Linked DNA regions of Homo sapiens. The protein of the gene in region 1 purifies or fractionates together with the protein of each later gene. This does not show direct contact. Each region holds a gene or a part of one and is shown in the gene's direction. Other genes may lie near its edges.

Region 1 (3,591 bases):
AAAGAATTTTCTTCTTGGATTGGATGGCTGCGTGTTTATTAATAGCAGTGAAATTTTCCGTGTTCTTTTGTATCAAATGGGATGCTGACTAAAATATGAAGTAGCCTTTCCAGCAAAAATAACAGTAATGGATGAATAATTACAAAAGCTATAGGGAACTGAAAGACATTTTAATTTGTCATTATTTCTATGTATTCAGAAAGGATCTGAATAATTACAATGACTATAAAAAGGAAGAATGTGATATTTTTCCTCATTATGGGATTAAGTTCTTAATATACCACTTTTACTATAAGTTTAAAAAAAAAACCCTTTCATCTGATTTTCTCTAACTATGTAATCATGACTAAAGACTGTTTAGCTGTGAATATTTGGTCTTCTTACTGTTACGTGAAGATGCTGTCCTTCAAACTCTTTTTAATCTCAAAAGTGTTCATCTTTGCAGTTTATAAAAATGAAATTATACTTATTTGCTCAGTGAGAACTTTCAACCCTTATGTCACATTAATTTTTGAAGATGACAAGGACTGTTGAATTTCTTTAGGTCATGACCGGATGGTAGCAGAGTATGAGATTCTAAAACAGGATTTTAATTTTTATAACAACTACTAAAAAGTGGCTATAGCTACCAGGGTCATGCTAAGGCAAAATTTCAAACATTTCAAAGCTATTTTTAAAAATATGCATATAGTCTCAATTTTTTTAGTCTACATTATACCAACAATGTTCAAATTCTTATTCAGATCCTAAGAATATTCTATGACAGCACTGTTTTTGGAAAATGAAATTTCAACATATGCTCTGTGTTTCTAGGTGAGTGATAGAATTTTCTTTTGTAGCTTTTGAATTTTCATTTACCAGACTGCCAGTGAGACATTTGGACCTTAGCGAAGGAAGATGGGAAAACCTGTGAAAAGAGTCTAACCTGCTCTAACACTTTTGCCACCCTTCCCTCTAAAATATTCTTTAAGGGAAACAGCCACCACTAGAAGATGCTTTTCCAGCAGCTTCCTTTCAGCTGGAGCACTTCTTCAGCAGCATGCGAGAAATCCCCGGCAGAAGATGTCAACAAGCTCTCTCACCTCCTGCTTATGAGTTTTTCCAGGGTTCAAGTTCCACTGCTTAACAGCTGTTTGATCTTGTGCCATTAATTTAGCCAAGTGAAACCTCAGTGTTCTCACCTTTAAAAGGGGTGGAAATGGCACACATAGTAAAAGTGGTCTGTGGATTAAATTAAAATGTAAAGTAAATGTAAAATTCATGACTCGTAGTAGGCATGTTGTAAGAGGTAGTATCTTGTTGTCATAAAGAAAAAAACAAAACTAAAAATCCTTCAAAAATTGGCTCTCAATTTGATTAAATCAATACTTTTTGCAAGTAAGGCCAGAAAGAATTTTTTTTTTTTTTTTGACATGGAGTCTCCCTCTGTTGCCAGGCTGGAGTGCAGTGGCACGATCTCGGCTCACTGCATCAGGTTCAAGCGATTCTCCTGCTTCAGCCTCCTGAGTAGCTGGGACTACAGGCATGCTACCATGCCCAGCTAATTTTTGTATTTTTAGTAGAGACGGGGTTTCACCATGTTGGCCAGGATAGTCTTGATATCCTGACCTCGTGATCTGCCCACCTCTACCTCCCAAAGTGTTGGGATTACAGGCATGAGCCACTGCACCTGGCCCAGAAACAATTTTTTTTTTCTATTCTTCTAACAGAGAAAATTCTGAATGAGTGGACAACGAGGCTTATATTAATTTGAAATTTAGCCACTGTAATGTTGCTCTCCACTTTCAACAAGAGGGTTCTGCATGTAGTTATACCTGAAACTTAAAGATGGGTGTATGCAGCATGCCATAAATAAAAATCAATTCATTATTTTTATTTAAAAACATTTGGAATGAATTTAGTGTCTGGATTGACAATGTAGAGCTATACATTTTCTTGTACGTATGTGGAGATGGCATTAGTAATGGAGATATTTTATATATACAGGTTATTTAGAACCTGAAAGATTAACTTTACAAATTCAGATGCATTTGAATTTGATGGTTAAGGTAATATGAGAAGTAGAAGAGAGACAGGGGGTGGGGGGGAGAAAGAGGTGTTGGAATTTGTAATTATGAAAGAAGGTAACACTGTGTTTCCTTCTGTCTTATAGCCTGAAGAATAAGTAGTGAAAGCATCAATCAAGACATAAGAACAAAACATTAGCATTTCTCTGCCGTGGAGAATTGCTTATCAACCACCAGAGGAGGCTTCTTTCTTGAACAATAAACATTTCTTATAAGGATTCACAGATTCACATACGACTGATCTTGATTTTTGGAAATGAATGAGGTTTCTTTTTTCTTTTTCCTTTTTTTAATTTTGGGGTAAGTTATGATATTTGGATGGATTTTTAAATTCTTTCCTGATAACATATTTAGCACATGTTCTAAATTATAATCCTATAGCAAACAGTTGGAGCATTATTCAAACTGAAAGTGGAAAAATTTAAATTTCCAATTTATTCTAGATTTCCTCAGAGCATAATTATTCTGTTAAATCCTCAATGAGTGTGATGTAAACCACCTCTATCCAGAAATATACATTCTTTTCTCATCATGTTGGACACAGTTGAGGGTGACATGCACAGAACTGGAACAGATCACTATTAGTGGAAAATACCAAATGGACAAATAAATACCAGTCGTTTTCTCCGTTCTCCAAGCACAGGAGCCAGGTTTACCATCTGAACAATGAAGACGAAGGGAGTAAATAAAGGAAGAATTCTCATCTTTTTTCCTGATCATTCAAAGAACAGTTTCTCAAGGTTAAGCCAAGTCCTCCTTGCAAGTTGCCAAATAATAGCTTAGGAAAAGAATTAGTCTGCCTGCATGATGATCTTCTTAGGCAAAAACGTCTTCACAGCCCTTGACCTTGGTGAATTTTTTTCCCCAAAAGCATCCAAAAGAAGAATTATAAACCCCAGAATGAGATGGAAATAAACAAGTATTTTTTTTTATGATGTTTGGCCTGAACTGTGGGCTTTAATTGGGGGATACTGATCGTTTGGAAAGAAGTGAGAAAATTCTGAAGAAATGGCGGCCTTGGGCTAGGCGGGGTCCCCTATTTCTTCTGTTTCTCACTGAAGTCCTACTGCTGAGCCAAGACTCAGTCACTCTGGAAAGAGCATGACCGATAAAGAAAACAGTTCCTTTCTGATGGGGAGCGTCTGAGTGCAGATCATGAGGCTCTTTCTCTAGGTTTAATTCTTTTCCATGGTGACCGGACTTGGTGTCTTGTAGCCTGGTTACGAAGTGGGACGTTGAGCTTCTACTGACGATGCCCTGCATGGACCAGCTGGGATCTGGCTGGGGCTGCCCTGTGTCCCTAACGACCATAGGCAATCCATCTTCTTGTGTCAGCAATTTCTGGACACCCACTGTTTTCCACCAAGAGCTGAGGTGGCAACAACTCAGTGAGCAATAAACAAAATGACACAGAAATGCACAGTGTTGTTATGAAGGAGCCTGTTTACCTGTGTTCAAAATCTGGCACCATTCCCTTGAGCAGGGCCCGCTCAGGAGGGACCAGGTCTGCCAGTTTCTGTGCCTG
Region 2 (4,178 bases), on another chromosome or scaffold:
CATCGTTTCCACTGACTAGAATTTACTTACCGCTTCTCTATGTTTTACTTTTAAGTCTGGCAGAAATCTCCTTACCACTCTCAAATTGCTCCTTTCTTTGAACTGCCATTAGTCTATTAGAGTAATAAGTGCATTATTTAACGTGTACTGTTCTTACCACCAAAACCAGATCAGAACCTTTGAAAGCAAAGGACTGTCTCCTTGTATCCCTGATGTTTAAAAATTATTTTGTGAATCAAAGGCACGTGGCAAATTGTTACTGGAATCCTATTAGACATACAGTATTGTATATTACATAACACGTTCCTTCAAGTTGTAAGATCTTAATGATGTAAGTATAAAGAGATGTGGATGGAGATGCTAAACTTGTGAATTTTTTTTTTTTTTAGACGGAGTCTCACTCTGTTGCCCAGGCTGGAGAGCAGTGGCCCGATCTCGGCTCACTGCAACCTCTGGCACCCAGGTTCAAACGATTCTCCTGCCTCCGCCTCCCTAGTAATTGGGATTACAGGTGTGCACCACCACGCCCGGCTGATTCTTGTATTTTTAGTAGAGAGGGGATTTCACCATGTTTGCCAGGCTGGTCTCGAACTCCTGACCTCAGATGATCCACCGGCCTCGCCCTCCCTAAGTGCTGCGATTACAGGCGTGAACCACCACGCCCGGGTTAAACTTGTGAATTTAACATGTTGCAGCCTCACATGAGAACACGGTATTCAACAAATGCAATGGAACGAAACTATGGCTGGGGTACAGAGCACGTATTTTTGCCATGTGGTCACAACTATGTGGTCATAGCTGCTAGGATGATGTACGCAAACTGCTCACATTAAAGCAAAAGTACTTACGTAATACAAGGGGTTTAATAGTGCAACAATATTTCTTAGCAACATTTCTGAGGGGCATATCAAGTTATTATCGCTAACGTTATCATATCAGGAAATGACGGTTAACAATGCAAGAAACTTTTGGGAAATGCTATTTAGTGTTTGAGTCCGCAAGACATACTCGTACCCTGAGCATTCGCAGTTGCTGCTCCACCACCCATTCTCTCACTGCTCACCCACGTGCTTCTGGACACTTGCTTACCAAAGTACTAGTTTGCATCACGTGACACGACTAGCAGGCCCCCTCCGCTCATGTATGACATCCCAAAGATGCCTGATTATTTTCCCTTCTTTAGGGAAAGGTGGTCCCAATCACCAACAAAACAGAGAAAGAGAACGAGAATTATCTCTAGTGGTTTTGCCTGCTAATCTTCTTTTTCCCTGAAAGAACACCCTCACGGCACGGCGTTTTCCTTAACGGTCAGGCGTTTTCCCGGGCAGCTTACCTGCTCGGCCTGGGTCTTTCTGGACAGCAGGCGCTGGAGGTGCGCGTCACTGTCCGCCGCCGTGTCCGCGGCTGCGCCAGACAGTGTAGAACCTGCGGCCTCGATGTCCTTCTCCCGTGCCCTATTGTGGGCTCGGCTCCCGGCGGGGCGCCAGGCTGGCCACCGGGCAGCCATCTGCTCTGCCCTTCGTCCCCACTTTGGGCCCTTTCCCGGGGTTCTGGGGCAAGTTTCTGTCCTTGCCACCGCCTCCTCCTCTGCCTCCGGTGGCTCCAAAATACCAAACACGTCCTTGTTCGTGCCCCTGACTGTGAAACCTCAGGGCCCCAGCGCCGACGGCGACGTCGGGGCCGAGCTAACCCGGCCTCTGGACAAGAGTGAGTGCGGGAACTACTGAGGGCGGCAGAGGGTGGTGTCTGCTGGGCCGAGGCTGGTTGGGAGGAAGCTACATCCCCTTCCCCTGGGGATCCGAGGTCCCATCGAGTGTTGTCATCGTGCCTCTCAGTGTCTGCCTCCTTCGCTGGTGTGTGAGCCCCTCAAACGGCTTAGGACTGTATCTGATTAATTCTTAACGCCTCGTCCCAGAAGCGGCCTTTTCCCTTTTACTGCCCTGCTCTCTGAATGGTTTAGACACTCATGTGTTGGGAAGATTTGACTTTTTTGAGTTGTTAGGTGGACGCCCGCTCTTTCTTGCATTCTTTGTTTCTCTCCCACCCCCGAATGGGATGTGGCAGTGAAAAGCCAGCGGAGACTCCTTTTAGGATTCTTTATCATTGAGGAGGCGCCGACTCATACCACGCTGTTAGGCTGTGTGGTGGTTGCCAAGAGGAACCAGACTCAGATCCAGATCCCCTCTTAAGAAACGTAACGGTATCGTGGGGGAGGACACGTGTATGGAAAGTGAACTGTAATACAAGGTAGAACATGACAAGGTCTAGAACAAGGTAGGGTGTCCCCGGCTCCAGAGAGAAAAGAAGAGGTAGCATCAGTTAGTGGCAGCGGGCTTTGCTCAGCAAAACTTAAGTTTGGATGGATTCGTTGACAGAGAGGCATGTGAATGTTTTCAAGGTGAGTTTCGGGATGATTAGGGAGGTAAGGGAGTTTCCTCTGACCATATGAAACTGGGAGATTGAGGAAATGCTATCCAGAATTGTCTCCAGGAATAGGAGGAGAAATGTCTCACTTCAACAAGCGACATTGGTGCCTCCTATTGTAAATCTAAAATATAGACTACAATATGTTTTTCAGAGCAGAAGTACAGTACTTTCACTAAACATGTGATGGAACTCACAGTATATGTTATTCTTTGACATATTCTTCCAGTGTTAAGCAAGGCCTTTCACTTTACTTGGTGCTGGGAGACTGTCTTTATTTTCTGCTGTTATAACATAATACCTGAGACTGAGTAATTTATAAACAATAGAGGTGTATTTGACTCATGGTTCTGAGCCGGGATCTGATGAGGGCCTTTGGCTGCATCATCACATGGTGGAAGGTGGAAAGGCAAATGAGCCTGTGAGACAGAGAAAGGGGGCTGAACTTATCCTTTTTTCCTGTGATAACTGACTCCTGTGATAATGGCATTAATCCACTCACAAAGGCAAACTCCTCATGTCCTAATCACCTCTTAAAGGTTCCACCTCTCAACTGTTAAAATAGCAATTAAATTTCAATATGAGTCTTGGAGAAGACATTCAAACCATAGCAGAGAATGTGTTATTTTAATAATGTAATTATACTATTATTTATTTTTAAATTATAAAAATACATAAAATTTACTCTTTTAAGCTTTTTTTTAGTTTTTTTTTCTTTACTTTTTTTTTTTTAGAGACAGGGTCTTGCTCTGTTACCCAAGCTGGAGTATAGTGGTATGATCATAGCTCACTGTAACCTCCAACTCCCAGACTCAAGCAATCCTCCTGGCTCAGCCTTCTAAGTAGCTAGGAATACAGGCGTGCATCACCATGCCTGGATAATTTTTTAATTTTTTGTAGAGATGGGGTCTTGCTATGTTGCCCAGGCTGGTCTCAAACTTCTGGGCTCCAGGGATCCTCCTGCCATGGCCTCCCAAAGCCCTGAGATTACAGACCTGAGCCACTGCACCCAGCCAGTCTTAATTGTTTTTAAGCACATAGTTCACTAGCGTTAAGTATATTGACATTGTCGCGAAATAGATGAGAACTTTTTCATCTTGCAGAGTTGAAACTCAAACAATAGTTTACCCATTAAAGAACAATTTTCCATTATTTTATATTATTTGAAGGCATAAGGTAATTTGGATGAGATAATTTGCCTTATTGTATTCAAATATTGATAAATTCTTATTTTCTGCAGCTATTCCAATTCACCTGAAAATGTAAATGTCTTTGCTGCTTCCTGTAAGAAGATAGAATAAAGACATGGGTTTGTCAGCACTAGATTTTCTTCTGGTGGAGAATCCTTAGATACTTCATTGGGTCTGTGTGCCAGGTGATTTTTCATCTCCTTTGACTGGGATTGGTCCAGATGTTGAATTTACTAGAATGATTTTTCAGCATGGCAGGAGGGGCTACAGAAGATGGTGCATTACTACACTCTGATATAGCCATGTGGTTAAGGTGTCAGATTTCCACTTAGCTTAGCAATCAGGACAAGAAGCTGTCACTTCTCAATCTCTTTTGCCTACTCATAACCCAAAAAGTTGAGGTACTTAAAGGCTTTGTCCTGCGTCACCTTGCTGCCTTATTCTGTGCTGTCTATGGGGTGTCTCATTCTCTCTCTCCCCTCACTAATTCAGTATTCCTCTCAGATCTTTGTCTCTACCCTGGACCTCTCTCCTTCACCCTGGACCTATATATCTCGCTGCCTA
Region 3 (3,591 bases), on another chromosome or scaffold:
GAGCATTGGTTTGTGAGAGCAGTGCCGGAGCCGTGTGTGTGCCAAAGCTCTGCCTGTTTTTGTGCCAGGAAAGGCTCACGCCACAGCCTCACCCTCGCCACCCACAGCCTGCTGGCTCAGTCACCAGATGCGTGTTTCTTCACATGGTGTTTGGTCCCCAAGTGACAATCTCTGTCTTTTTTGTAAGGTTTCCCTCTCAGCGCATTTAACCGCTTAAACCCTTTATCTCCTTGAGAATCTGAAATAATTGAGGAGTGGACAGTTACTAGTCAGATGAAAATACCAGCTTTGTGGTGAGTAATAGCAGACTAGAAAAATGCAGCTTGCCTTGTAATCAGAGTAGGCCCTCTCTCACCTCCCCAGCCCGCCCTGGGGACGCATATGGGCAAGTCGGGTCTGCACAGAAGCCATGTGAGTGTTGCTTAGAGTCTAGCCTCCCCATCCCTACCCCCCTTCGAGCACAGCAACCCACACTTCACAAGCTTGGACCACTGGCCATCAGCTGGCCAGTCTGTGTCCTTCTTATAGTGGGGTTTGGAAAGAATGAATGAAAAATAAAGAGAATGATGCAATTTCCTCCCCCATTATTATCTTGTTGAGAGTTTTCAGTTATGGACCGGCAGGGGGAGGACAGTTTCTGCTTCCATGTTGGTCTGGTGTCCCAAAGACGCTAAAAACAAACCCACTTGCTTTATTTCAGTGTAAGAGAAAAAAATTAGAGATTTTTCATCTGTTGGTCTCATTAACCAAAATGAAGTGAGCTGAGTTGGGTATAACCTAGGGTGTCTCTCTTGAGCTCTGAAAAGTGTGAATTCTCGTTTTCCCCAGGTTGCCGATATAGAATCTGGCAGACAGATTCAGCTGATCAACCGAAAGTCTCTGCGATCTCTCACTGCCCAGTTGCTGGTATTGTTGATGTCTTGGGAAGGAACCACCCATCTTTCTGTTGAGGAGCTCAAGAGACATTACGAAAGTACCCACAACACTCCCCTTAACCCCTGTGAATATGGATTCATGACCTTGACCGAACTGCTGAAGAGCCTGCCATACTTGGTTGAGGTAGGCACGTTAATGGCTCTTTAGAACTATCATTGAAAACTATCGATTGGGCATTTCCGGATTACCTGATGGTCTAGATTAGAGTGTGTAGAGCTGGAAGGGACCCGAGAGACCATTTCATGGATGAACACGCCGAGACCTCAGGCAGTGAAGCAGCCCTGCCTAAATGGGTGGCAGAAGCCAGTGAAAGCCTGGTCTCCTCATCCTGGCACTGGGGTGTGTTTGTCCCGTTCTAGGATGAAAGCCTGGTCTCCTGATCCTGGCTCTGGGGTGTGTTTGTCCCATTCCAGGATGGATTTCGCTACTGTTTTATCTTTCTGAATGAGATGGTTTATGTGGTGGCTTGAAGAGAGAGATGAGTAAGGTGAGGGCAGAAAGGAAGGTTGGCCAGCCAGTCCCCCAGGCAGCCTTTCAAGAATGGCGCTCCAAGATTGAGAGAATCTTAAGAGAATACTGCATGCAATTCTCGGGCGACAGATATAAAAACCTAGAGTAAATAAATGAAATCCTGGAAAAAATAAGTTACCAAAATTCACTCAAGAAGTTAAAAATTAGACCAATTACCATAAAAGAGACTATAAAAGATCACTGAAATATACCAGTGAAAAAGGCATCAGGACCAAGTGAGATAACAATTGAATTTCAACCAACCCTAAAAGAACAGATAAATCTACCTTTTAAAAAACCATTCTGGGGCCCGGCAAGGTGGTACACGTCTATAATCCCAGCTACTAAGAAGGCTGAGGCTAGAGAATCACTTGAGCCCAGGAGTTTGAGGCCAGCCTGGGCAACATAGCAAGAACCCATCCCCAAGAAAAAAAATACTGTTCTAGGCTGCTGAAAAAGAAAAAAGGAAAGCTTACCATTTATTTTTACGAAGCCAAAATAAATTTAATACCAAAAACATAAGATAGTCCCTTAAAATGATCCTAAATAAGATATTAACAAATGAGCTCCAGCAATTTAAAAGAATGATATGCCATTATCATCTAACTGTGGGACACATCATTAAATAATGAAAGGATATACATCCAGCATTTTCTAAACTCTGTTAATATCTATCCTAAGAACACCAGTTCTGGACAGGTGTTAATGCATATTTCAGGACAAAGGACTTTCCCTGTCCAGCTAAGATTGGGAATATCCTTTCTCTTGGCGATTCCATAGCATGTTAAACACTTTGAAAAGGTTTGTGGTAAAGAAATCTGCTTCCTTACCCTGCATACACAAGGGTTTTGTGTTTGTTTCTTGTTGCTTTTGATGTGTTTTTAAAGAATGCTAGTGTCATCCTCTTATCACAGTGTTTCTTGGAAAACTGGTTTGGAGGTGCAGTTTAATGGCCCCAGTGTTCACTGTGTGTACCGTGATTTGCCAACACAGTTTGCCTCCCCCGATTTCTTCCCTACTCACACACTGTCTCTTCAGACCGCTGCAGCCTTCGACTTGCAAATAGAACTGAAGTTTGCTGGAGGCTATAGCCTTCTCTTGGAGGAAATCCTTGAATATATCCCTCCTCCTTTTCTTTCTCCTCTTCCTTCTTTCCTTCCTCCTCCTCCTTTCTTCTTCTTTGTCTTTTTTGTCATCTTCATCTTCTTCATCTTTGTCTTTGTCCAATTCGTCGTCTTCGTCTTCTTTATCGTCGTCTTCGTCTTCTTCATCGTCGTCTTCGTCTTGTCTTCGTCTTCTTGTTCTTTGTCTTCATCTTTGTCGTCTTTATCTTCGTTTTTGTCTCGTCGTCTTTGTCTTCATCTTCTTTGTTGTTGTCTTCTTTATCTTTGTCGTCTCCTTCTTCTTCGTCATCTTTGTCTCCTTCTTCATCTTCATCTTCTCATCTTCGTTGCCTTCTTTTTCTTCTTTGTCTTCGTCTTCAACTCTGGGCCTTTTCCCTCAGTGGGAGGCCTTCACTTTCCACGGGGCAGGGCCAGTCACTAATATTTCTAATGCTGCGTTTTCTTTTTAACCAGGTTTTCACTAATGATAAGATGGAAGAATGTGTGAAGCTCACAAGTCTGTATTTGTTTGCAAAGAATGTGCGGTCTTTACTTCATACTTACCACTACCAGCAGATTTTCCTTCATGAGTTTTCCATGGCCTATACCAAGTATGTCGGAGAAACTCTGCAGCCCAAGACCTACGGCCACAGCAGCGTGGAGGAGCTCTTGGGAGCAATTCCACAGGTGGGCATTTTTCTCAGCTTCCGGGAGAGCATCTTCTGAACAGCCACAGGCTAACTGTCCTGAACAGAAAAATAAAATGCTGCCAGAATAATGGAACGGCAGGCATTTTGAATTGATCCTTTCAAAACATACTGTTGGTCTAAAGTAAATGATTTTAGCATTTCTCCTTGATTCTTTCTGTAAACCTTTATTAAATCCCTATATGCCAGGTGAGTAAGTTTCAGGCTGTAACTCTAGAAAGGTGTTGGTTAATGGGAGAGTCAAGACCCCCAAGCAGGCAACTAGTCAGGGCGGTCAGGGCAGTGGGCGCGCTGAGGAGGGCCGTGTCAGGGCCCACTTCCCAAGCCTGGGGAGC
Region 4 (3,591 bases), on another chromosome or scaffold:
GAAGAGAACCCCAGGGATTCCTTCAACCATAAGTTGGGGGAAATAAAAACAACTCTGTTCTAAACCATCTCATTTTTTTTAAAGATGAAGAAGTTAGAGTCCAGAGAGGTAAAGTAACTTGACCAGGTTCACACAGATAATTAGCATAAAAGCCAGGACCAGAGCCAGAGAATGCCAAACAGAGCACATTTTGTTTCTCTGAAAGAAAGCACTGTGTACATTCAAAGACTTATTATTTCCACTGGGGGTAATTATACCCAAGAAATGTGACGGAGAGAGGGGAGACTCTCTTGCCCAAGAAGTGGTGACAAAACCAACAGTTGCATAATTGATAAGTAAATGACGGTACATCCATATGATGGACTTCCATGCAGCATTAAGACAACTTTTCAAACAAATTTTTTGGTAATCTGAAAAATGTTAACTATAAGGTTAAGTCATTTTATTTCTTGAAAAAGCAAGATATCAAATTATATGAACAGAATAATCTCAATTCTATTCAAAATATTTAATTATGCATATAAAAAGATTAGAAACATATAAAAATGTTAACAGGGATATTGTCTGACTGGTAGGATTATCAGTGATTTTTAAATATTATCCAAAGTTGCTATAGTGAACACACTTATAATCAGAGAAAATCTTATGGGGGAAGGATGAGATGAATAAAATATCCAAAGCGGTCAATAGTAGATGAATTTTTAAAATCTATCCTTTTGAGATAATATTTAAAAAGTTATGCTAAAATAAAAATACATAATTGATGTTGGAGCATGAGAATGCATTAAATATTTAAATTTCTTCTAATGTTGTTCAGGCCTTAAGATGTCTTCCAACTCTAGTGCCAAGCACTGTGCATACATGCTACGTACTCAATAAATTAGTTCATCCCTCATCCCTAGAGTTTCTTGGCTATATAATCTTCCGATCCCTCATATGCAAGCAAAACACCCATTAAAAATAGTTGGTAGTGTACTTAGGACTATTTAAAAATAGTTTCATTAAAAAACAAATGTGGCAGAGAATGGTGGCTCATGCCTGTAATCCCAGCACTTGGGGAGGCCAAGATGGGAGGATTGCTTGAAGCCAGGAGTTTGAGACCAGCCTGGGTGACATAGACCCCATTCTACAAAAAAATAAAAATAAAAAAATTAGTTGGGTGTGTGATATGTGCCTGTAGTCCCAGCTACCTGGGAGGCTGAAGCAGGAGGATTGCCTGAGCCCAGGAGTTCGAGGCTGCAGCAATCTATGATCACACTGCTGTACTCCAGTCTTGGCGACAGAGCAAGACCTTGTCTTAAAAACACATGTGTGCGCACACACACACACACATACACACACACACACACCACACTCCAAATGTTATATATCAGGGAGATGTTGGCTTTTCATAGTTTTATAATTAATTGGTTTGTGTGTTCACTTTTTAAAACTAGGTCAATAACTTTATCTTCCTGCTTTTTCCTCACAGCCCTGCCAAGCCCAAACATGTGGAACTAAATCTTAAAACCCCTAAGAATCTTGACAGTTTGGGAAATGAGCACAATCCATTTAGCCAGCCAGTTCACAAAGGCAACACTGCCACCAAAATCTCCTTATTTGAAAACAAACGGACAAACAGTAGCCCAAGACACACTGACATTCGAGGCCAAAGGAATACTCCTGCCTCTAGTAAAACGTTTGTTGGGAGGGCAAAGCTGAATTTAGCCAAAAAAGCCAAAGAAATGGAGCAACCTGAAAAGAAAGTAATGCCAAACAGTCCCCAGAATGGTGTGCTGGTTAAGGAAACTGCTATAGAAACCAAAGTTACCGTCTCGGAAGAAGAGATTCTGCCAGCAACCAGAGGAATGAATGGAGACTCTTCTGAGAATCAAGCTCTTGGTCCTCAGCCTAACCAAGATGATAAAGCAGATGTACAAACAGATGCTGGCTGCCTTTCAGAACCAGTGGCTTCTGCTCTGATTCCTGTCAAGGATCATAAGCTCTTAGAGAAGGAGGACTCAGAGGCTGCAGACAGCAAAAGCCTTGTACTTGAAAATGTAACCGATACAGCACAAGACATCCCCACCACTGTGGATACCAAAGATTTACCTCCAACGGCCATGCCAAAGCCACAGCATACATTTTCTGACTCACAGTCCCCTGCTGAGTCATCTCCTGGGCCTTCTCTTTCACTGTCTGCACCCGCTCCTGGGGATGTTCCCAAAGACACATGTGTTCAATCACCCATAAGCAGTTTCCCATGCACTGATCTAAAAGTGTCAGAAAACCATAAAGGATGTGTTTTGCCTGTGTCTCGTCAGAACAATGAGAAAATGCCACTTTTAGAACTTGGAGGAGAAACAACCCCTCCTTTGTCCACAGAGCGTAGTCCAGAAGCTGTGGGAAGTGAGTGTCCATCCAGAGTCCTCGTCCAGGTCAGGTCCTTCGTGCTCCCCGTGGAGAGCACCCAGGATGTGAGCTCCCAGGTCATCCCAGAGAGCTCTGAAGTTAGAGAAGTGCAGTTGCCAACTTGTCACAGTAATGAACCTGAAGTGGTTTCCGTTGCAAGTTGTGCTCCCCCACAAGAGGAAGTACTGGGCAATGAACACTCTCATTGCACAGCAGAGCTCGCGGCAAAATCTGGCCCACAAGTCATACCGCCAGCATCAGAGAAAACTCTGCCTATTCAGGCTCAAAGTCAGGGCAGCAGAACACCCCTGATGGCTGAATCCAGTCCCACCAACTCTCCCAGCAGCGGAAATCACTTAGCCACTCCTCAAAGGCCAGATCAGACTGTTACAAATGGCCAGGATAGCCCTGCCAGCCTTTTGAACATTTCTGCTGGTAGTGATGATAGTGTATTTGATTCTTCTTCTGATATGGAAAAATTCACTGAAATTATAAAACAGATGGATAGCGCAGTTTGTATGCCCATGAAAAGAAAGAAGGCCAGGATGCCAAACTCTCCTGCTCCTCACTTTGCCATGCCTCCTATTCACGAAGACCATTTAGAAAAGGTGTTTGATCCCAAAGTGTTTACCTTTGGTTTGGGGAAGAAGAAGGAAAGTCAGCCAGAAATGTCACCGGCTTTACATTTGATGCAGAACCTTGACACAAAATCCAAACTGAGACCCAAACGTGCATCTGCTGAACAGAGCGTCCTCTTCAAGTCCCTGCACACCAACACTAATGGGAACAGTGAGCCTCTGGTGATGCCGGAAATCAATGACAAAGAGAACAGGGACGTCACAAATGGTGGCATTAAGAGATCGAGACTAGAAAAAAGTGCACTTTTCTCAAGCTTGTTATCTTCTTTACCACAAGACAAAATCTTTTCTCCTTCTGTGACATCAGTCAACACTATGACCACGGCTTTCAGTACTTCTCAGAACGGTTCCCTATCTCAGTCTTCAGTGTCACAGCCCACGACTGAGGGTGCCCCGCCCTGTGGTTTGAACAAAGAACAGTCAAATCTTCTGCCCGACAACTCCTTAAAGGTCTTCAATTTCAACTCGTCAAGTACATCACACTCCAGTTTGAAAAGTCCAAGCCACATGGAAAAATACCCGCAAAAAGAGAAAACCAAAGAAGATCTGGATTCACGAAGCA

What was found.
Region 2: the proteins of ZMAT4 (region 1) and SUPV3L1 purify together in Homo sapiens (affinity purification with mass spectrometry; one large-scale study listed by BioGRID and IntAct). This does not show direct contact.
Region 3: the proteins of ZMAT4 (region 1) and MARF1 purify together in Homo sapiens (co-immunoprecipitation; one large-scale study listed by IntAct). This does not show direct contact.
Region 4: the proteins of ZMAT4 (region 1) and CRYBG1 purify together in Homo sapiens (affinity purification with mass spectrometry; one large-scale study listed by BioGRID and IntAct). This does not show direct contact.

The regions. Positions count from the first base shown.
Region 1 is NC_000008.11:40,530,800-40,534,390, reverse strand, and holds part of ZMAT4 (zinc finger matrin-type protein 4), read left to right. Parts: intron 1-2,152; coding exon 2,153-2,168; 3' UTR 2,169-3,591.
Region 2 is NC_000010.11:69,178,856-69,183,033, forward strand, and holds the start of SUPV3L1 (ATP-dependent RNA helicase SUPV3L1, mitochondrial), read left to right. Parts: upstream 1-1,378; 5' UTR 1,379-1,436; coding exon 1,437-1,707; intron 1,708-3,664; exon of another isoform or gene 3,665-3,799; intron 3,800-4,178. UniProt on the Homo sapiens protein: Major helicase player in mitochondrial RNA metabolism. Component of the mitochondrial degradosome (mtEXO) complex, that degrades 3' overhang double-stranded RNA with a 3'-to-5' directionality in an ATP-dependent manner.
Region 3 is NC_000016.10:15,601,636-15,605,226, reverse strand, and holds part of MARF1 (meiosis regulator and mRNA stability factor 1), read left to right. Parts: intron 1-828; coding exon 829-1,059; intron 1,060-3,023; coding exon 3,024-3,236; intron 3,237-3,591.
Region 4 is NC_000006.12:106,517,660-106,521,250, forward strand, and holds part of CRYBG1 (beta/gamma crystallin domain-containing protein 1), read left to right. Parts: intron 1-1,471; coding exon 1,472-3,591. UniProt on the Homo sapiens protein: May function as suppressor of malignant melanoma. It may exert its effects through interactions with the cytoskeleton.